Linked DNA regions of Homo sapiens. The protein of the gene in region 3 purifies or fractionates together with the protein of the main gene of each other region. This does not show direct contact. Each region holds a gene or a part of one and is shown on either strand. Other genes may lie near its edges. The genes, in order: LANCL2, SH3PXD2B and LZTFL1.

Region 1 (3,654 bases), on a different chromosome or scaffold from region 3:
CACACAATTTAGTTCATTTTGAATAAAGAGAAAAAAATTACATTTCTCTGGGTATTAGGGTAGTACTGATTTCCTTATGCTTCCATGATATATTATGAGGTTAAACAAATTTTAAAGCTTCAAAACAAAAATATGGAAAATTAAATAATTATAAACTGAAGCATTTCCAATAGCTTAAGATTGTATCAAATTACAGACAAGTTTTCCTGATTTTTTTCTGTGGAAAAAGTTGTAAAGTCCTTTGGATTGACCAGAAACTATAAAACTCCTACAAGAGAACATGGGGAAAAGCTCCTGGACACCGGCCATAGCAATAATTTTTTGGTATGACACCAAAAGCTCATGGCACAAAAGCAGAAATAAACAAATATTACTATATCAAATTAAAAAGCTTCTGCACAGCAAAGGAAACAATTCTTAAAATGAAACAGCAGCATATGAGCTGGGAAAAATTCCTTGAGCCCAGAAGTTTGAGACCAGCCTGGGCAACATGGTAAAACCCTGTCTCTACAAAAAATACAAAAACTAGTTGGGCATGGTGGTACCTGTCTGTGGTCCCAGCTACTCAGGCAGCTGTGGTGGGAGGATAATTTGAGCTCGGGAGGGAGCCACAATCATGCCACTGCATTCCAGCCTACAACAGAGTGAGACCCTGTCTCGAAAAAAAACAAAACAAAACCCAAAACTATACAGAGATAGAGAACAAAACAGTTATTACCGGAGGCAGTGGGTTGAAGGAAGGAGAGGAAATGGTCAGAGGATACAAAATGGAAGATATGCAGGACAAACAAGTCTAGAGCTCTAAGGCACAACATGAAAACTACAGGTAATAAAAATGCACTGGATGTGGGATTCACGCTAAGTGAATAGATTTCAGCAGCTCTGGCCACAGAAAAAACAATGGGTAATTATGTGACATTGGGAATATATTAATTTGCCTCTCTATAGAAACCATTTTACTACCTATATGTATCACATAACACCATGTGGTATACCTTAAATATACAATTTTAAATTTCATTTTAAAAGAATCCTTCCAATCCATCAAGTCCTTCAGCATCAACTCCAATCACTGTCTTCGGCCTCAATACTCCCCAGTGCCATTCACGCTCCCTCTTCTCCAGTCATGCCGTACTCCTTGATATTCTCATAATGTGGTATCCCTTAAGTCCTTGCTCATGGAGTTCCCTAACTGAGCCTAGAAAACCCCCACTTAATCTTTCAAGGACCATGAAAGTATCATTTTAGTCTAAAAAGCCTTCCCTGATGCGAATGGGCAGAATTAACACGTCTTCTTTCTTCTCTTGTGCCCCCAAGATATTCTTTACATATTGTCACTTACTGTAATACTCATTGCAGGGTTCTGGAGGCTACACCTAGCAATGGTGCAGTATCACAGCAATTTCTCTCCCAACCAATGAGGTATGGCAATGACCTCTCTGACAAGTTCAAGATTTCAGCCCTGGCTGAGGACTCTACAGTTCATGGTATTTATGCTCCTGTATAACCCCTCCACTTGAGCGTGGGCTGGATTTACTGTCTTGCTTCTAATAGAATACAATATGGCAGGTGTGATGGTATGTCACTTCTGAGATTACATAATAAATACAATGACTGCAGCTTCCATCTTGGGTGCTCTTGCATACTTTTCTCTTTGATCACTCAGTCTCAGGGAAGACAGCCACTATGTCATGAGGCAGCCCTAAGGAGCAGCCCATGTGGTTAGACACTGAAGCCTCCAGAAAACACATAGCAAGGCCGACTAACCACCATGTGAATGAGCCTGGAGCAGATTCTCTCTCCCAGTTAAGCCTCAAAATGACAGAAGCCCTGGTTCAGAGCTTGAGTGCAGCTTCTCCAGAGACCGTGAGCCAGAACCACCCAGCTAACCTGCAGCTGGATTCCTGACTCTCAGACACTGCATGAGATCGTAAGTGTTTATAAAGATGCTAAGTGTTGGGATAATTATTACACAGCAACAGAGCTAATCACAGGGGCCTTTACTCGAGTGCCCTCTCAGCCCTAGGGGTGGGGCTGCTCCTTCTGTCTGCTATTCCTACACTCTTCAGAGTTCTCTTTCCTTCTCATGAGACAATCTCTTGTTACTCCAGTCTCACAGTTCATAACAATTCTTTAAGTTAAACTTTCCCTATTAAACTCTGCATGGTACCCATCTCCTGGTTGGACTTGAACATCAGTTGAAGCTGCTGCTGCTGCTGGTCAAAGACATTAATCATGATTCAGCTCCTAGAGCTGGGCTCAATTCCCCTTAAGTCCACGGCCACAACAAAATCAAGTAAAAAGGAGGAAATGGCTGTTAGATGAGTAACTAAGAGTGTCTGCGTCACAGGCTTTCCATAATTAAAAACAACTGCTACTACACTGGTTCACTGCTTTTCATAATATTGGCCCAATATTGTAAAAAATGTTATAAATACCAATTTATGGAAATATGGCCCAGAGAAGCCGACTTGAGTGGTTTTAGAATCAGAGGATAATTTTATTGACTGATCACACCACATACCTAGGCAGCCAAACTAAAATGAGATAGAGTGAATGACTTAAAGAATACTTAGTAATAAAATGTTATTGTGTTGGTAGATTTTTGTAATCATTACTCGGTAACATCATGGAGAGAAAATTATTCAATGCTTAACTTACAAATTAACAAGTTACCCTAGGGATACCACAAAGTTCAACAAACTGGGTGGCTTAAAACCACATAAATTTATTTTCTCATAGTTCTGGAGCCTACAGCCCCAAAATCAACGTATCAACAGGGCCATGCTCTCTGTCAAACTTACAGAGGAGAATCCTTCCTTGCCTCTCCTAGTTTCTGGTGTTGGCTGGCAATTCCAATCTCTGCCTCCATCATCACATGGCCATCTTCTTTCTCCCTATGTCTCTTTCTTCTCTTTTACAATTCTTTTTAAAAAAGAGACAGGGTCTCACTATGTTGCCCAGGCTAGTCTTGAACTCCTGCCCTCAAGTGATCCTCCTGCCTCAACCTCCCAAAGTGCTGGTATTACAGGCATGAGCCATCATACCTGCTTCTCTTTTCTTCATATAAGAACACCAGTCATATTGGATTAGGGGCCCATCATATTCCAGTATTACATCATCTTAATTACATCTGCCATGACCTTATTTCCAAATGTCACATTCTGAGGTTCCAATGGGTTAGGACTTCAACCTTCAATACCTTTTTTTCTGGTGGGGGACACAATTCAACCCATAACACCCTCATTTTCATGAAATTTCATGTCTATCAAAAACAGTGCATAGTGTGATATCCTCAAATTGCATTCTTAACAGATTTTTAAAACCAAAAATTTAATGTCAATCATAAAAAATATTAATAGGGAAGACAGTGTTCAACTCATATTCATTTTATCTGATGACTTTCCAATAACCAAGAAGCAATCTTTCCACCTTTTAAAATCACTATCCATCTCTCCCTTCAACGTGCTCTCATTTTCATATTCAAGAATAATATGATGTCCATTTCTTTCTTTAGCATATACTCACAACCACTGGCATAGGTCCCCACCCCAACTTACATTTCATTGCAGAGATATCACAAGCCCCATTAGTTACTTGTAGTCTAATTTTCTTTTCAACATAAATCAGGTATATAACTGAGGTCAAAAATCA
Region 2 (3,654 bases), on a different chromosome or scaffold from region 3:
CCCATTAAGCAAGGCTGGTTTCCACCTCCAGATGTTTCTCATAATGAGGAGTTGGAGGCCAAAGCTGCCCCATGTGAGTGACAGCCCCCTCCCGCCCCATTCTGAGAACAAGATGGTGCATAAACACTCATGGACTGTAATTCGTCCTAGGCTGATAATCTGCCCTCGTCTCTCAAAGTCCAATGGTAAAAGCAGGGCGTCTGCATTCCAAACACCTTTCACAGCCCTTTCACCTATGTGATGATATCAGAGCCTCCCAGGCAGGCAGGGTGGCCAGCTCGTCCTGCCTTGCCTGGTTTTAGTAATGAAAGTCCTGGGAACCCCTCCTTGATCACCCCCAATAGGCAGGATGTGACCATGGGAAATTAGGGCAAGAGAGGAAGCCGAGGTCCCTGCAATCTAGTGTCTGCGCTGTGATGTGTGGCGGGACATTCGGGCCATTTCCAGGAGGCTGAGCATGTAGCACTGCATTCATTCATTCATTCAACAAACGCACACCAAGAATCTCTGTTGGGCCCAGCCCTGTTCTGGGAGCTGAGGAGTCAACAGTGAGCAAGATACAATAGCTCACACCACCTGGTACAGAAGACAAACTCATAAACGGTGATAGAGCAGAGGGTTGGCCATGTTGGAGGGATGCATGGGGACTTTGGTACACAGAAGAGGGGCTCCTCAGCCTGGGGGTCAGGAAGGCTTCCTGAGGGAGATCTCAGAACCTAAATTTGAAAACGGATAATGATAGTAATAGTGTATTAGTCTATTTTCATGCTGCCGATAAAGATATACCCCAGACTGGGAAGAAAAAGAGGTTTAACTGGATTTACAGTTCCACATGGCTGGGGAGGCCTCAGAATCATGGCGGGAGGTGAAAAGCATTTCTTACATAGCATCGGCAAGAGAAAATGAGGAAGAAGCAAAAGTGGAAACCCCTGATAAATCCATCAGATCTTGTGAGACTTATTCACTATCACGAGAATAGCATGGGAAAGACTGGCCCCCATGATTCAGTTACCTCCGCCTGAGTCCCTCCCACAACATGTGGGAATTCTGGGAGATACAATTCAAGTCAAGATGTCGATGGGGACACAGCCAAACCATATCAAATAGCAGGCATGGGCCTGGCACGGTGGCTCATGCCTGTAATCCCAGTACTTGAGGAGGTAAGGCAGGAGGATCACTTGAGGCCAGGAATTCAAGACCAGCCCGGGCAACATAGCATGATCCCATCTCTACATAAAAATCTTTTAAATTAGCCAGGCATGGTGATGCACGCCTGTAGTCCCAGCTACCCAGGAGGCTGAGGCAGGAGGATCACTCGAGCCCAAGAGTTTGAGGCTGCGATGAGCTATGATGGTGCCACTCCAGCCTAGGCAGCACAACAAGACCCTGTCTCTAAAATTTAAAGACATTAGTTTTTTTAAACTTTTTAAAAAAGGATAACAAACATATATTGAATAGTATGTTATCTTGCTGCATAATAAATTGTCCCAAAAGTTAGTGGCTCTGGAATTCAGCAGTGGCTTAATTAGACTCAAGGTCTCTCCCGAGGTTATAGTTAGGATGTCAGTAAGGGCTGCAGTCATCTCAAGATCTGACTGATGCTAGAAAGTGACAGTCAGGATTTCAGCCCATTCCCTTCTCACCCCAGAGCCCAGTCAGCACTGCACATCGCCTCCCATCTTATGGCTCTGTGTCCCCAAACAATGAACTATGTCAAACTGAGCGTGTGGGTTATATACAGCCTGGCACTTTCTAATTAGGATATTCCCTCTCAGAGCATATTTTAAGATTGATAGACACTAAACTGCAGATTTCTACCTCCTTTTAAATTTGCTTCCAGTCAAGAGAGACCTTTTTTTTTTTGCATTAAAACCCAATGCTATTTAGTTCTTAAATTAATTCTTGACAAGAGATTCAGCCCTGCCATTGGGTCTGTTCAACTTTCCCCAAAGGTCTGGCCACCTGTTTTTTTGGGTTCTGGTAAATGTTTAACAACCAGCTCTCCAAGGAAAAATACTCTGAGTTACAGTGTTTGCCAGTTGCCATGGTGCAAATACTGCCACCATGGTCAATTTCAAGCTATCAGTGTGATGTCACTAAATGTAGAGATTGGGAGAGATGTGCCCAACTGGCTGTCACAGCTGGTGTGACTGACTGCAGCACACCCCTGGTCTAGATTGGCCCCTCTGGTCATTGCTGTTAAACTGAATTCTGGCCAAGCGTGGTGGCTCACACCTGTAATCCCAACACTTTGGGAGGCCGAGACAGGAAGATCACTTGAGTCTAGGAGCTCAAGACCAGCCTGAGCAACATAGCAACACCCCATCTCTACAAGAAATAATAAATAGCTGGGCATGGTGGTGTGTACCTGTAATTCCAGCTACGTAGGAGACTGAGTTGGGAGAATCGCTTGAGCCCAGGAGTTCAAGGCTGCAGTGAGCTATGATCGAACCACTGCACTCTGGCCTGGGTGACAGGGAGACCCTATCTCAAAAACTGAATGTCTCCTGCAGAGGATTAAGAGATGATGACACTCATTGAAGTCCCTTTTGGGAGGACACTGAGCTGCTCTGTCAGGGTCTCGATCACTCTGCGGTTTAGTGATGGCCAGCTGCCACTTGGCGAGCCCTGGACCCAGCCCTCAACCTGCTAATCCCATATGAAAGCATGTTTAATCTCCACGTTCATCAGCGTGAACAGATCTCCATCTGTCTATGCCAGGCTTTGGCCCCAGAGCTGGGGCTGCTGGGAAGAGGCAGCAAAGCACAGAGATTCAGAGCCCAGGCTGGTGCCCTGCTGGCTGGGTGGGACATGGTGGGTGCTGTAAGAGGGGCAAGTAGAGGCCGGGTTGGAAAGGCCTTGAAAATACCAAGCTCAGGGCTTAGGCATCATCAAGAGGAAATGCACAGTGTGTGCCAACCTCTTGCCCTGGGCAGTCACAACCCGTCGTTCCTGCTCCCTGGGACCTGTCATGTGATTCCCAGTAGGAGCAAGGCTTCTTCCCTTGGGCCTGGCGGAGCAGTTTGACAGCATCCTTCCTCCTCTTCACAGGTACCAGGGCAAAGAAGGCTGGGCCCCCGCCTCCTACCTAAAGAAGAACAGTGGGGAGCCCTTGCCCCCGAAGCCAGGCCCTGGCTCACCCTCCCACCCGGGTGCCCTTGACTTGGATGGTGTTTCCCGGCAGCAGAACGCGGTGGGCAGGGAGAAGGAGCTGCTCAGCAGCCAGAGGGACGGGCGGTTTGAAGGCCGCCCGGTGCCCGACGGTGACGCCAAGCAGAGTGAGTGACACCCGCCCAAGCTCCTGATAATCAGGGCCCCTGTGTGCCAGCTCTGTGCTCAAGGCGTCTCACATCGTCCCTCATCCTCACAGCAGCCCAGCTGCTCCCCCATCCTCCAGATAAGAAAACAGAGGCCCAGAAACCCCGGGTAACTTATTCCAGATCATTCAGCCCGTGAATTGCAGAATCTGAGTCAAGAGGCATTGCTGGCCGGGCACAGTGGCTCACACCTGTAATCCCAGCACTTTGGGAGGCCGAGGCAGGCCGATCACCTGAGGTCAGGAGTTCAAGACCAGCCTGGCCAACATGGTGAAACCCCGTCTCTACTAAAAATACAAAAATTAGCCAGGCGTGGTGGCAGCTGCCTGAAATCCCA
Region 3 (3,654 bases):
GAATCTGAGCTCATCAACACTGCCTATACCAATGTGTTACTTCTGCGACAGCTGTTTGCACAAGCTGAGAAGTGGTATCTTAAGCTACAGACAGACATCTCTGAACTTGAAAACCGGTAATAAAATTTGAACTTGCAACTGTGACAATAATGGCCCAAGCATAATCTTAAAAGTTAGTGAACATCTTTGGCTGCATATTTTCTTGGGGCTAGTGTGTGAGGAAATTTGGGTAGGGTAACAGCAAAGCATTGAGTCACTGAGTGATCTCTTGGGTACCACTAAGCACCCTTTTAAAAGTTCTCTGTTTCTACTGTTCCTAGGTATTACAAAGGCCATCGAGATTTATGAAATTGCTTTTCAGGCTATCATTAATTATTTCTTACAGCATTTTTGTTAGCTTGGTCAGTATTACCATCAGTCTTTATAGATTGGTCAACTAAGAAATAGAGATTATGAGACAGTTGAAAAGTCAATTCAAATATAATAAATACCATCAATTCAATCCAGTAGCATTGGAAGTTTTCTAAATAATGGAATTTAAAAGTATACATTTATTAACTTTGAAATAGGAAATATACAAAAAAGCTTATAATATGGACATCTAAGAGCTCAAATTCAAAAAATATGGTAAAATTGGTGAAGTTGAAACTCATTTTAAGAAAAAGCATGCCAGAAATCAGGAAGGACTGACCGCCAAGCCCCGTGAACTACTCTAAGCACAGTCACAGCACATCAGTTCACATGCAGAGTGTTGAACAACGCTGAGGACAACCTATGAGCTGGGGAGGAAAATCATTGAACTTCTGCCACTGTCAGTAGATGACTGGTGAGAAAACTCTGAGAAGGTGGTGCTTTAAGAAGCTTAGAAGCTGACTGCTGTTAACACTCTAAGCTTGTGTGTAGTCACTTCTCATTGGCCTTTGCAAATCTTCAGATGGCACACCCCCACTATCTGTCTTTCCTAGGAATTTGTGGTACTCTTTTTCAGTAGATACTATGGACTATTTTCATTTTTCTGAGACTACTTTATTAAGAATCTTTTTTGAACACCTACTAGCTAACAATACACATTATGTAATAAAACAGTCTCCTCATAGCACCTCAAGAATACAAAGTTGACTATAAATTTTCCTCATATTTGTATTAACATTATGGTTTATTTCTAGCAGTAGATATTGCATACCTAGTAGATACAAAATGCCAGGTACTGTGGATGATTACATTTGAGTCCATGTGGTTTAGGTTCTCAACCATTTGCAACTAACATTTTTGATATGGTGAAGTTTGGTCCATCTTGCTCTGTTCTCTCTGGCATGTAATGGGTTGGTACCAGTGATTTTACTCTTCTTGCGTGTGATATAAATCTATTTTAAATGAATAATTTTTATCTTTGCTTTCTTCTTCAAGAGAATTATTAGAACAAGTTGCAGAATTTGAAAAAGCAGAGATTACATCTTCAAACAAAAAGGTAACTTTTTGGTCATTCTAAATCCATATCTTAATAGCCAGTATTTAAAATCCTCAAGTTGCTCAAAGAATTCAGAGATCAAAACTGAGAACTCTTAAGGAAAAGCATTCAATTCAAGAGTAAAATTCAGAAATTGTCTATCATATTTTCAGGCAAAAGAAAAAATGTTTTGGAAGTAACTGTGAAAAACTGCTTTTGTCTGTGATGGCTTACACATACACATGATCCCTAAGTTCAGTCTCAATCCCACTCATAAATACTCTACTCAGAAGATTCAGAGCGCAGGCTGTAGGGTCAGCCACACCTGGGTATACATCCTGGCTCTGTCACTTCCTGGCTGTGTTACCTTGAGCAGGTTATCTGAGGTAGCTGAGCTTCATTTTACTCATCTGACAAATGGAGACAATACTAGTAGTTATCTACCTCTCTTTCTAATCATTCTCATTAATTGGAGTGGCCACTTACCATTCCACTTCACGGGCACACCGTAAATACTCCATTGTTGGATAAATACTGCTGAGATGAATCTATGTACATACACATGCAAAATACTTTCCAGTTATTCCTTTGGGTCATATTTATGGCTAAGAAATTTCTGGATCAGAGGGCATGAATTATTTTATTTTTAATATATATTACTAAACTACTATATTATTTGTGCCAAGTTATTGTTTATCTGTATTATACTTGCCTAGATCTTCATCAATATTATTGTTTTTCACAGAGTCTAAGGTTCATGTAGAAATCACTGTTTCAGCTCCCACAGGCTAAAATTCTAGTTGCTAGATGCTAGGCTCTATATCAGATCTGGCTTTGAGCTCCTTCCGTCCCTCCTTTCTTCCCTCATTTTCCTTCTATCTATATATTTTTAAAAGATACAGGGAAGATAGGTTTTATTTTTGTCTCTAACATGTATGGGGCACTGTAGGACAGGCATATCCTAGGCACTGGGAGTAACAAAGGATGAAACCAACAGAAATCTCCACACCTGTGGAACTGACATCGCAGTGAATATGTTTATATATAGTATCTTCCACTTGCAAAGTGCAAGTGTTCAATGATTATACATGCTTTATTCTGTGGTGATTTCAGTTTGGTTTCTTTATTTTGTTTCAGCCCATCTTAGATGTCACAAAGCCAAAACTTGCTCCACTTAATGAAGGTGGAACAGCAGAACTCCTAAACAAGGTAATATTATTATTTTGAGAAACGGAAAGTCTCTCATTCTGTCCTGTCATTGCCTAGGGTGGAGAAACAGAAGTGGAAGGTTTGTTTCAGGTCCTCTGAGGATAATTAGTCCATTGCAGTAGTTTTACTTGATGGTACCCCATGGGCCAGAAGAGGGCATACTTAACCTTCTAGAGAGCCTGAAGTAGCTCCTGATCACACCTTTTCAAGGTAAAGTGAAGAGCATGAAATTTTGGACAGCGTTTATTGATGGACATTTAAAGTTTGTGATCTGCGGTAACAAGGAGAAGGGTTTTTAAGTTTATAAAAATTATTTATCAATTAGCCGGGTGTGGTGGTACGTGCCTATAGTCAGAGCTACTCGGGAGGCTGAGGCAGGAGAATTGCTTGAACCCGGGAGGTAGAGGTTGCAGTGAGCTGAGATCACGCCACTGCACTCTAGCCTGGGCGACAGAGCGAGACTCCATCTCAAAAAAAAAAAAAAATTATTTATCAGCACAGGTTGAGTATCCCTTATCCTTGGGACTAGAAGTGTTTTGGATTTCAGATTTTTGAATATTTGCATTATACAGACCCCAGTTGAGCATCCCAAATCCAAAAATCTGAAATCTGAAATGCTCCAATGAGCAGTTTCTTTGAGCATCATGTCAGCACTCAGAAAGTTTCTGATGTTGAAGCATTTCAGATTTCAGCTATTTTTCATGACCCTTGTATTCTCAACATTATGCTAGATGTTGTTAGAAATAAAAAGCAGTGTAATACCTGCTCCCTTGCCCTCAAAAATGTAATAGTTTGGGTTTTTTATTGTTGTTTGTTGGTTTGTTTTTTTGAGACAGAGTCTTGCTCTGTCGCCCAGGCTGGAGTGCGGTGGCGTGATCTAGGCTCACTCCAAGCTCCACCTCCCGGGTTCACGCCATTCTCCTGCCTCAGCCTCCGAGTAGCGCCTGCCACCACGCCCGGCTAATTTTTTGTATTTTTAGTAGAGATGGGGTTTCACC

What was found.
Region 1: the proteins of LZTFL1 (region 3) and LANCL2 fractionate together in Homo sapiens (co-fractionation; one large-scale study listed by BioGRID). This does not show direct contact.
Region 2: the proteins of LZTFL1 (region 3) and SH3PXD2B fractionate together in Homo sapiens (co-fractionation; one large-scale study listed by BioGRID). This does not show direct contact.

The regions. Positions count from the first base shown.
Region 1 is NC_000007.14:55,368,262-55,371,915, reverse strand, and holds part of LANCL2 (lanC-like protein 2), read right to left. Parts: intron 1-3,654. UniProt on the Homo sapiens protein: Necessary for abscisic acid (ABA) binding on the cell membrane and activation of the ABA signaling pathway in granulocytes.
Region 2 is NC_000005.10:172,349,987-172,353,640, reverse strand, and holds part of SH3PXD2B (SH3 and PX domain-containing protein 2B), read left to right. Parts: intron 1-3,051; coding exon 3,052-3,278; intron 3,279-3,654. UniProt on the Homo sapiens protein: Adapter protein involved in invadopodia and podosome formation and extracellular matrix degradation. Binds matrix metalloproteinases (ADAMs), NADPH oxidases (NOXs) and phosphoinositides.
Region 3 is NC_000003.12:45,832,052-45,835,705, reverse strand, and holds part of LZTFL1 (leucine zipper transcription factor-like protein 1), read left to right. Parts: coding exon 1-116; intron 117-1,407; coding exon 1,408-1,468; intron 1,469-2,584; coding exon 2,585-2,656; intron 2,657-3,654. UniProt on the Homo sapiens protein: Regulates ciliary localization of the BBSome complex. Together with the BBSome complex, controls SMO ciliary trafficking and contributes to the sonic hedgehog (SHH) pathway regulation. May play a role in neurite outgrowth. May have tumor suppressor function.